Homo sapiens: one gene and its partner. The protein of the gene in region 1 purifies or fractionates together with the protein of each later gene. This does not show direct contact. Each region holds a gene or a part of one and is shown in the gene's direction. Other genes may lie near its edges. The genes, in order: AFM and PRMT8.

What was found.
Region 2: the proteins of AFM (region 1) and PRMT8 purify together in Homo sapiens (affinity purification with mass spectrometry; one large-scale study listed by BioGRID and IntAct). This does not show direct contact.

What each region holds. Positions count from the first base shown.
Region 1 is NC_000004.12:73,480,326-73,484,648, forward strand, and holds the start of AFM (afamin precursor), read left to right. Parts: upstream 1-1,419; 5' UTR 1,420-1,450; coding exon 1,451-1,538; intron 1,539-3,615; coding exon 3,616-3,664; intron 3,665-3,932; coding exon 3,933-4,065; intron 4,066-4,323. UniProt on the Homo sapiens protein: Functions as a carrier for hydrophobic molecules in body fluids. Essential for the solubility and activity of lipidated Wnt family members, including WNT1, WNT2B, WNT3, WNT3A, WNT5A, WNT7A, WNT7B, WNT8, WNT9A, WNT9B, WNT10A and WNT10B. Binds vitamin E.
Region 2 is NC_000012.12:3,494,180-3,498,000, forward strand, and holds part of PRMT8 (protein arginine N-methyltransferase 8), read left to right. Parts: intron 1-3,821. UniProt on the Homo sapiens protein: S-adenosyl-L-methionine-dependent and membrane-associated arginine methyltransferase that can both catalyze the formation of omega-N monomethylarginine (MMA) and asymmetrical dimethylarginine (aDMA) in proteins such as NIFK, myelin basic protein, histone H4, H2A and H2A/H2B dimer.

The sequences.
Region 1 (4,323 bases):
CGCTTGGACCCGGGAGGCAGAGGTTGCAGTGAGACACGATCACGCCACTGCACTCCAGCCTGGGTGACAGAGTGAGACTGTCTCAAAAAAAAAGGTAATAAAAAATATATATATTTAAGGCGTGCAAGATGATGTTTTGAATACATATACATAGTGACTTGAGTACTACAGCCAAGCTAATCAACGCATCCGTCTCTTGACGTATTTTATTTATTTATTTATTTTTGAGACAGAGTCTTGCTCTGTCCCCCAAGCTGGAGTGCAGTGCGCGATCTCGGCTCACTGCAACCTCTGCCTCCCAGGTTTAAGTGATTCTCATGCCTCAGTCACCTGAGTAGCTGGGATTACAGGCGCATGCCACCACTCCCAGCTAATTTTTGTAGAGACAGGGTTTTGCCATGTTGGCGCAGGTTGGTCTTGACCTCCTGGCCTCAAGAGATCCACCTGCCTCGGCTTCCCAAAGTGCTGGCATTACAGGTGTGAGCCACCACGCCCAGCCAGTTATCTATTTTTTTTTCTTTTAAGACAGTGTGAATTCTTAAGACCTAGTCTCTTAGCATATTCTAAGCATACAATACAGTATTATTAGCTGTAGTCCATGTGATGCATTTGAACTTACTCATTCTACGTAACTGAAACTTTGCACCCTTTGACAAGCATCTCCCCATTTCCTCTACCTCCTGCCCTTGATAACCACCATTTTATGCTCTGTTTCTAGTTTGATTTTTTAGATTCCACATATAAGTAGGATTATGCAGTGCTTTTCTTTCTGTGTCTGATTTATTTCACTTAACATGATGTTCTCCAGGTTCATCCACATATTCTCATATGGCAGAATTTCCTTCTTTTTAAAGATTAAATAGTATTCCATTGTGTGTGTGTGTGTGTGTGTGTGCGTGTGAGATTTATTTATTTATTTAGTTTTTTATATGTTGACTGACAGGTTGTTTTCATATTTTGGCTATTGTGAATAATGAGGTAATAAACACCGAAGTGCAGGTATATCTTCTTAATTTTTTATTTTTAATTTTTGTGAGTACATAGTAGGCGTACATATTTATATATCTTTGAGATACTGATTTCACTTCCTTTGGATATATATGCATAAGAGAGATTGCTTGATTATATCTGTTCTGGCCCTTTGTTCCTTTAACATTTGCAGTATTTTAAGTTTTTTTTTGGTTGTCTATTTGATTAAGTATTGTGCATACTTAGCCTGTGGACTTTTGTTCCAACTCAGTAGATTTTTTCCAGCGAAACACAAAGGTAATTTTTTTTTCTGGTTAATATTTAGCAAGAATTCTGCAGAGTGATCAAAAAAATCAAATACTCAGTATTTCAGAAATAGATTAAATAGGTTACTTTTTTACTGATAATGTGAAAGAATGATATAAAAACTTGATTTTCCTCAACAACATTACTTTCTTTTGTAAATGTGGTTTCTACAAAGATGAAACTACTAAAACTTACAGGTTTTATTTTTTTCTTGTTTTTTTTGACTGAATCCCTAACCCTGCCCACACAACCTCGGGATATAGGTAAGAAATTTACTTGTATATCAGCTAAAGCATGACCAGTTAGGATAATTTCTATTTTTAAAATTTTGTTTTCTTTCAAGTTAATTCTTTACTTGCTTTTTTCACCCTCTCACTAATTTACATAGGCTAACCAGTTATCCAAAACTAACCTTTTCAGAATTTTTATTTTGATGGTAATTTTTATATTACCAAGTCTATATGAAGAAAGAGTTGTCACATCTGAAGAATAATCAGCAGTCTATGACAGGACAGAAAGTGTTGCTGGGAGATACATTTGGATTTTAATGTTGGTATTTCTTGCATATATGTATAGTTTATGGTAACAGTGGAACAATAGATGTTAACTGGGATTTTTCTGGAACCTTTGGTTGTCCAACATATTTCCCAACTATATCTTTATGGAATGCAGAACCTAGTTCCTCCTTCAACTGTACAGTTTGAACATCCCTCCTGAGCCTGGCCAAGGCCATCTCAGTCTGTAGGAAGGGATGACTTTTTTTATTTCTTCCATCCAAAGGGGAAATATTTTGAACCTCATATGTCTAGAGGAGGTGTCTTTTTCTAATCCTTTTTGGCCTAGAAGGAGCTCCTTTCTTTGACTTGAACAAATGTGCCCTAAGCATGGCAGTGGCCCTGAAGGCATGGATCGTGTCTTACGTGTCTTACTCAATTTGACATGCCCCTACAATACCAGCTAGTGAAGACTGGTCATTTCTGAGTTTTCCTGCTCCTTTTCCCTCGTAACAACCTGTTTCAAAATCTTGATTTTTTGCCTCTTTAATATCTTTTGTATCTATATTTTCCTTTTCATTTCCATTACTCCTACCAAAATTTAGATCTTGCTGATTTCTCAGTGTGACAGTTGCAAAGTCTCCTATGGCCTTCTTACTTTGTCCCATCCACCCTTCTTTTGCCCATTTATTTGACAATAGTTCTTTCTACCTTTTTCTATTTGTCTGGCACTGTGGAAAGTCCCATGACATTACATATACCACTACCTGACTCGTATTTCTTAGTGTATAGAAATGATCAGATTACTATCCTATATAAACATTTTCCAGGGCTCTCCATGTCTTCCAAATGAAGCCCATACTCCTTAGCTTTATATACAAGACTCCTATAATCTGGGCCCAGGTTCTTTCTATCCTAGGTACCATTATTCCTCTTTGTGACCCACTTTCTCATCAAAATAGATTGACTTTCCCTAAATACTTCTCAAGATTTCTTAATGCATTTATTCACATCATTCTCTCTCCACACAGACAGACAGGGTTTTTCATTTTTCCGTCAGCTGAATCTCTTACATTTACTCATGCTCAACTCATATCTCACTCCTCCTATAATCCTTTTTTTTCTTTCTTTCTCACCCAGGATTCATAAAGCATTCCCAACTTAATCCCATTCTAAATTAGATTATTGTCACATGCACGAGTAACTTCTATTAGAGAGCAGCTTAGGAACCTGATGTCAAGGGGAGATATTTTAGTCATTGTTGATTGCTTCACAGGGTCCAGCACAACACTTTGCAAAAAATAAATGTAGCTTATGTGAACAAACATAAATATGCTCCAATTAGTGTATGCTCATTGGGAGGGAATCCATGATTTTAGGTGGATCTGGAGATGACCTAAATAGCTGTGACTGAGTAGCGCTAAAAACTATGCTGACCACCAGCATGCTACAGCATCTCTCATCAGGCTCTGTTATGGCATTGAATCAGCCATTAGTTAATCTTCATATCACTTCTCTAGTCATAAATGATAGACATTTAGCATGGTAATGTATTTGACATTTCTATCTGGGGAGCCATCAATGGCAAATTTAAAGTCTAGTCAGATTAAGATTTATTTAGGTCAATTCAATTTGGTAAATATTTCTTGAACACATAATCAACAATGACTAAGATTTCCTATTTTGTTCACATGACTTATTTGTTTCTTGTTAAATATGCAAAATTATCTCCTGTCATCAGTGGTCTATTTTGTATTTTATACACTTAAATGCCATGTATAGTTATTTATTTGAAAAATGTTAGAAAACCATGCTATGTAATAACCTAAATATTCTTGCTTTTCAGAGAACTTCAATAGTACTCAAAAATTTATAGAAGATAATATTGAATACATGTGAGTTGTGCTAAATACTTTTTGATGATGATTTTTAAAATGATATATTCTAGAAATGTTAATGCTTCTCAAAAGTAATTTAACTAAATAGAAGCCATATCCAAGAAGACAACTTTAATTATAAAATTCAGGCAAAGAAGTTGTAAAATTTATAGCCATTACAATAGATAATTTCCTGAGGCTAGTCAGGATGTTCCTGTGACTTTTTCTTGACCATAAATGGAAACTCTGCAACTGATCTTTGTATACCCCATGTGAACTGTTGCAGCACCATCATTGCATTTGCTCAGTATGTTCAGGAAGCAACCTTTGAAGAAATGGAAAAGCTGGTGAAAGACATGGTAGAATACAAAGACAGATGTATGGCTGACAAGACGCTCCCAGAGTGTTCAAAATTACCTGTAAGTAAATTGCTTGTGTTTCTTTTCCTTTTATCTTATGTCTTTCTTTCTCTTTCTTTCTTTCTTTCTTTCTTTCTTTCTTTCTTTCTTTCTTTCTTTCTTTCTTTCTTTCTTTCATTCTTTCTTTCTTCTTTCTTTCTTTCTTTCCTTCTTTTTTTTTTCTTGAAACAGAGTCTCGCTCTGTCACCCAGGCTGGAGTGCAGTGGCAATCTTGGCTCACTGCAACCTCCACTTCCTGGGTTCAGGCAATTCTCATGC
Region 2 (3,821 bases), on another chromosome or scaffold:
GCACCGGCTCTGTACCAGGAAAGCTAGGTACCCAAGTTCCAAACATGAGGACCACCTGGTCCCTCCTCTGGAGGGGCTCACAGTCTCATGGACAACTATGATGGATAATCCTGTAGCCACCTTTTCCTGCTTTTTGTTGTTTATCTCATTCCATCCTCACAACAATCCTGTGAGATAAGCAAAGATTAGTATTCATTTCTTATACCCATTTTATAGTTGAGGACACCGAGGCTGAGGTCAAGCAATTGCTGAAAGTCTTCTGGTGGGTTAAGTCAGCCCTGAAACACAGACTGCCCCCACTTCTGATTCATTGCTGTTTGCCCTGCCCTTGCTATTTCTAACAAGATGCCATGTGTGAATGGGAGTAGATGAGGAGTGGGCAGAGAGGAATACTTTGGAAGGGAGAGATGCAGTGATGGAGGTGGGCAAGGATGGGAGAAAGTGTTCGTTCAAAAGCTAAAGCTACGGAGAGATACTCTAACCATTGGGCAGGAAGGGAGCAAGTGAAGAATAAAACTACTTACATTTTGACCAAAGCCTCCCTCCACAAAGCGAAGTACCCAGCTAGGGTACGAGAGCATCAACATCACGTGCTTGCTGGACACTGTTGGCAATGGGTGGCCCTGGGGGCACTCTTCAACCGCTCTGACCTCAGTTCCCTTCTCTGTTAACTTGAGCTGATTCTCCTCATGGAATAGGGCAGGTATGGGTATAAGGAAATGCCAGGACAGCCCCTGGCACATGGCAAACACGCAATAGTGTTAGTTCCATGTACGCTTTCTCCTGATCACTCAGCTATGCTTCTCTTCCTCGGCTAAGGGAATCACCATTCTGCCAGCCTCTTCTCCCTCTCCCCTGTTCCCTAGGTGTCATGAGAAACCTCCTCTGTGGCCTTCTGGAACATTTGCAAAGCCTCCAGTCCCACTCTCCTCTTCAGCCCATTGTCAGTGCCCAAGACACATCATCTCACCTCTGCCCTCACTAAGGCACTTTCCTCTGAACTGTTTGTCCTCTTCTCTAATCAAGCCTCATAATCCTACTGTACTGGATCAGCTTTCTGAAGCACAAATCTGCTCATGATCAGGCATCTCTTTAAAAACTTAGGATGCTGTCCTATTGCCTACAGGACGCTAGATAAAGCCCAGTTTCCTTAGCATGGTGTGCAAAGCCCATCAATACCTGCATCATGCAATTCTTGGAAAAGACCTCCGACTGCATATGTGAATGCTTCTGTGCATACTCTTCCCTCTGCCTGTGCCGGTCTTTCCTCCTTCTTCTCTCTGGAAAACAATCTTTTTCAACCTGCAAGACCCAGCTCAAACGTTACCTCCTCTGGGCAGGCTTCCCAGATCTGCCATTTATCCTCTCTCCCCAGGGAGGGGCATTACCCTTTCTTATGTGTTCCTAACGCCTGTCTCTCACTTTTCCTATTGCAAGATAATTGGCTTTTTGTGTGTCTATTTATATGTCTATTAGATAATGCACTTTTTTTTGAATTTGTGGGCCTGACACACAATAAGTAATAAATGTTAATAAATGTTGACTGAATTGATGTATGTGATTGTGAACAAACTCTTGAGCCTAATGGGCTTTAGTCACTCATGGCTTCCTGGAAATTGGGATTCCTATCTCCCACCCCACCTGTCTGCTGTACTTAGTTGCTGTGAACCTTTGAAACTCAAAATGGGTAAATATTCTGGGAATCAAGGTGCTGAAGCCAGTCAAATCATGGGTACATTTTGGTTATTCATGTACTTATTCAATATTCAGTAATTATCGACTCTTACTATGGAGTGCTCATCTGAATAGCAGATAAATGGATTAATCACAATGCCCAATTATGAACCATGGGGGATAATGGACCCTCCTGAGCTACTGCTTGCTTTACTGATACTTGGTGAAAGTCTGATGCATGATGCATTATTTATGGCGATGACTCCCTGATTAGGGTTTTATCACCTCAAAGGAGAGCCCCCAGGAGTTGGGAAACAGTTTTAGCAAAGAGTCACTTTGGAAACTGATATATATATATATATTTTTTTTTTTTTTTTTTTTTTTTTTGAATGTTCTGTTGACTTGCTGGCCCAGGGAGAGGGAATAATTACAGGTTGGAAAAAATCCTACAATGTGACAATGAGATTAGGGGTTGCAGTGAGTTATGGGGATAACTGAGCTGACTTCTTGCATGGTGTATCTTGGTGGTTTTGGCTAATAGATCTTTCTCCTCAGGAAGTTACTTTCAGCTGAAGAATGTGGTCCCATTATTACAGGGGTTAGGGAATTGAGGAAGAGGAGGAACCAGGCATAGTTCTCTGAGGATGGTCTTCATCTATGTCTGTTTCTGCAGAGTGTGTACACTAACTAGTAGGCTATGGAGACAGACTTCCTGGTTTTCAATCCAGTTCTGGACCTAGTAGATGTGTTGCTACATTGAGCAAGTTGCTTAATGTCTCTGGGCCTTTTAAGATTGTTGTGAAGATGAAAAGGGTTAATTTATGCAAAGGAATTAGAACATTGCCTTATACATGGTGAGTTCTCAATAAGCGTTTATGATTATTATCCTGCTAGCTTTTAGGAGTCTTGCCAAAAAAGTGCAAACTGAAAGTATTCTCCCACTTTCTCATTTCTGTAGCTGAAATGATCCATAAAACCATAGTCCATGTGACTTTTTCCTCCCTCCGCAAACACTGATTTCAGTCCTTAAGTGAGCTCAGGAGAATTAAGAAGATACCCAATTTTTTTTTTTTTTTTTTTGCCTGGCTAATTTGGCTTTTCAGAGTCCTAAATTGGCTTTTGGCTGTCAAAGACAGTGAAACACAACACTCCTGTCTCCAATTCAGGAGTGGGTTTCATTTCCTCCTCTTTGCTAACTGCAATGTGAAGTGATTATCACATACCAGTGTGGAACATGCAAAAATCTGTAAAAACAGTCCTTACACCTTGGAGTCTACTCTGCCAGCAGGGGGAAAATGGGCAGCCTGAAAATATGTGAACAGCCAAGGTAACTGAAAGCAGCCTCTGTGTGTGAGAAGCAAGCAGGTGGTGCTGTTGTGAACTGGCTTAGTAACAAGATAGAGTGAGCACAGGCAAGAAGGGACCTCTGAAAGGTCATTCTGTCCATGCCTCTGTCCCTGAGAACCACCTAACCGAAGATGCATTGTTGGCCACTTGGTCTCTTGTTAAAAAGCTTCAGAGAAGGGAATTTCCCCAAACTCCTCGAGTGTCTCAGTAGTCGGAAGTTCTCCCTGAAGTCTGAGCTCAACCTCTTCGATTGCAATCTGAGTCACCTTCGTTTATGTTATTCTAAAAAGAGATGAAAACTGGCTGCTACCTTTTCATTTGGGGTTGTCTCACCATTTTTACTAGTTTTTGTTCCAATTGATTCCAATCCCTTTTTCTGATATTCTGGTATTAGACTTCTAATAGGAATAGCTAGGAGAGGAGTGTTTGAGATTTGCCTCTCCAGTATTATCCAGCCAAAATAGCCACTGGATATTTCACACATCAAATGTCTTTTCTTACTTCACTTGTTATAAGAATTCCCTCAAGCATCACAGTTTTTCCCATATTTGTAATGAGTGGCCCATAAGTAAAGATCTCTTTTTAAAGTGTAATTTTATATTGAGCAAACAGCTTGATGTGCGTATTTTCATAAAGTCATAGAATGTTAAAGTTGGGTGGAAACTCAAATCACTTAAGTCAGGAGATAGGAACTACTTGTCCAATATCACAGAGCTCTTCCGTGTTGGGGTCAAGATCCTGTGGACTCCTGGGTCTGTGCTCTTTATACCTCCTTTAAACGTAGCATCTCATTTATTGTT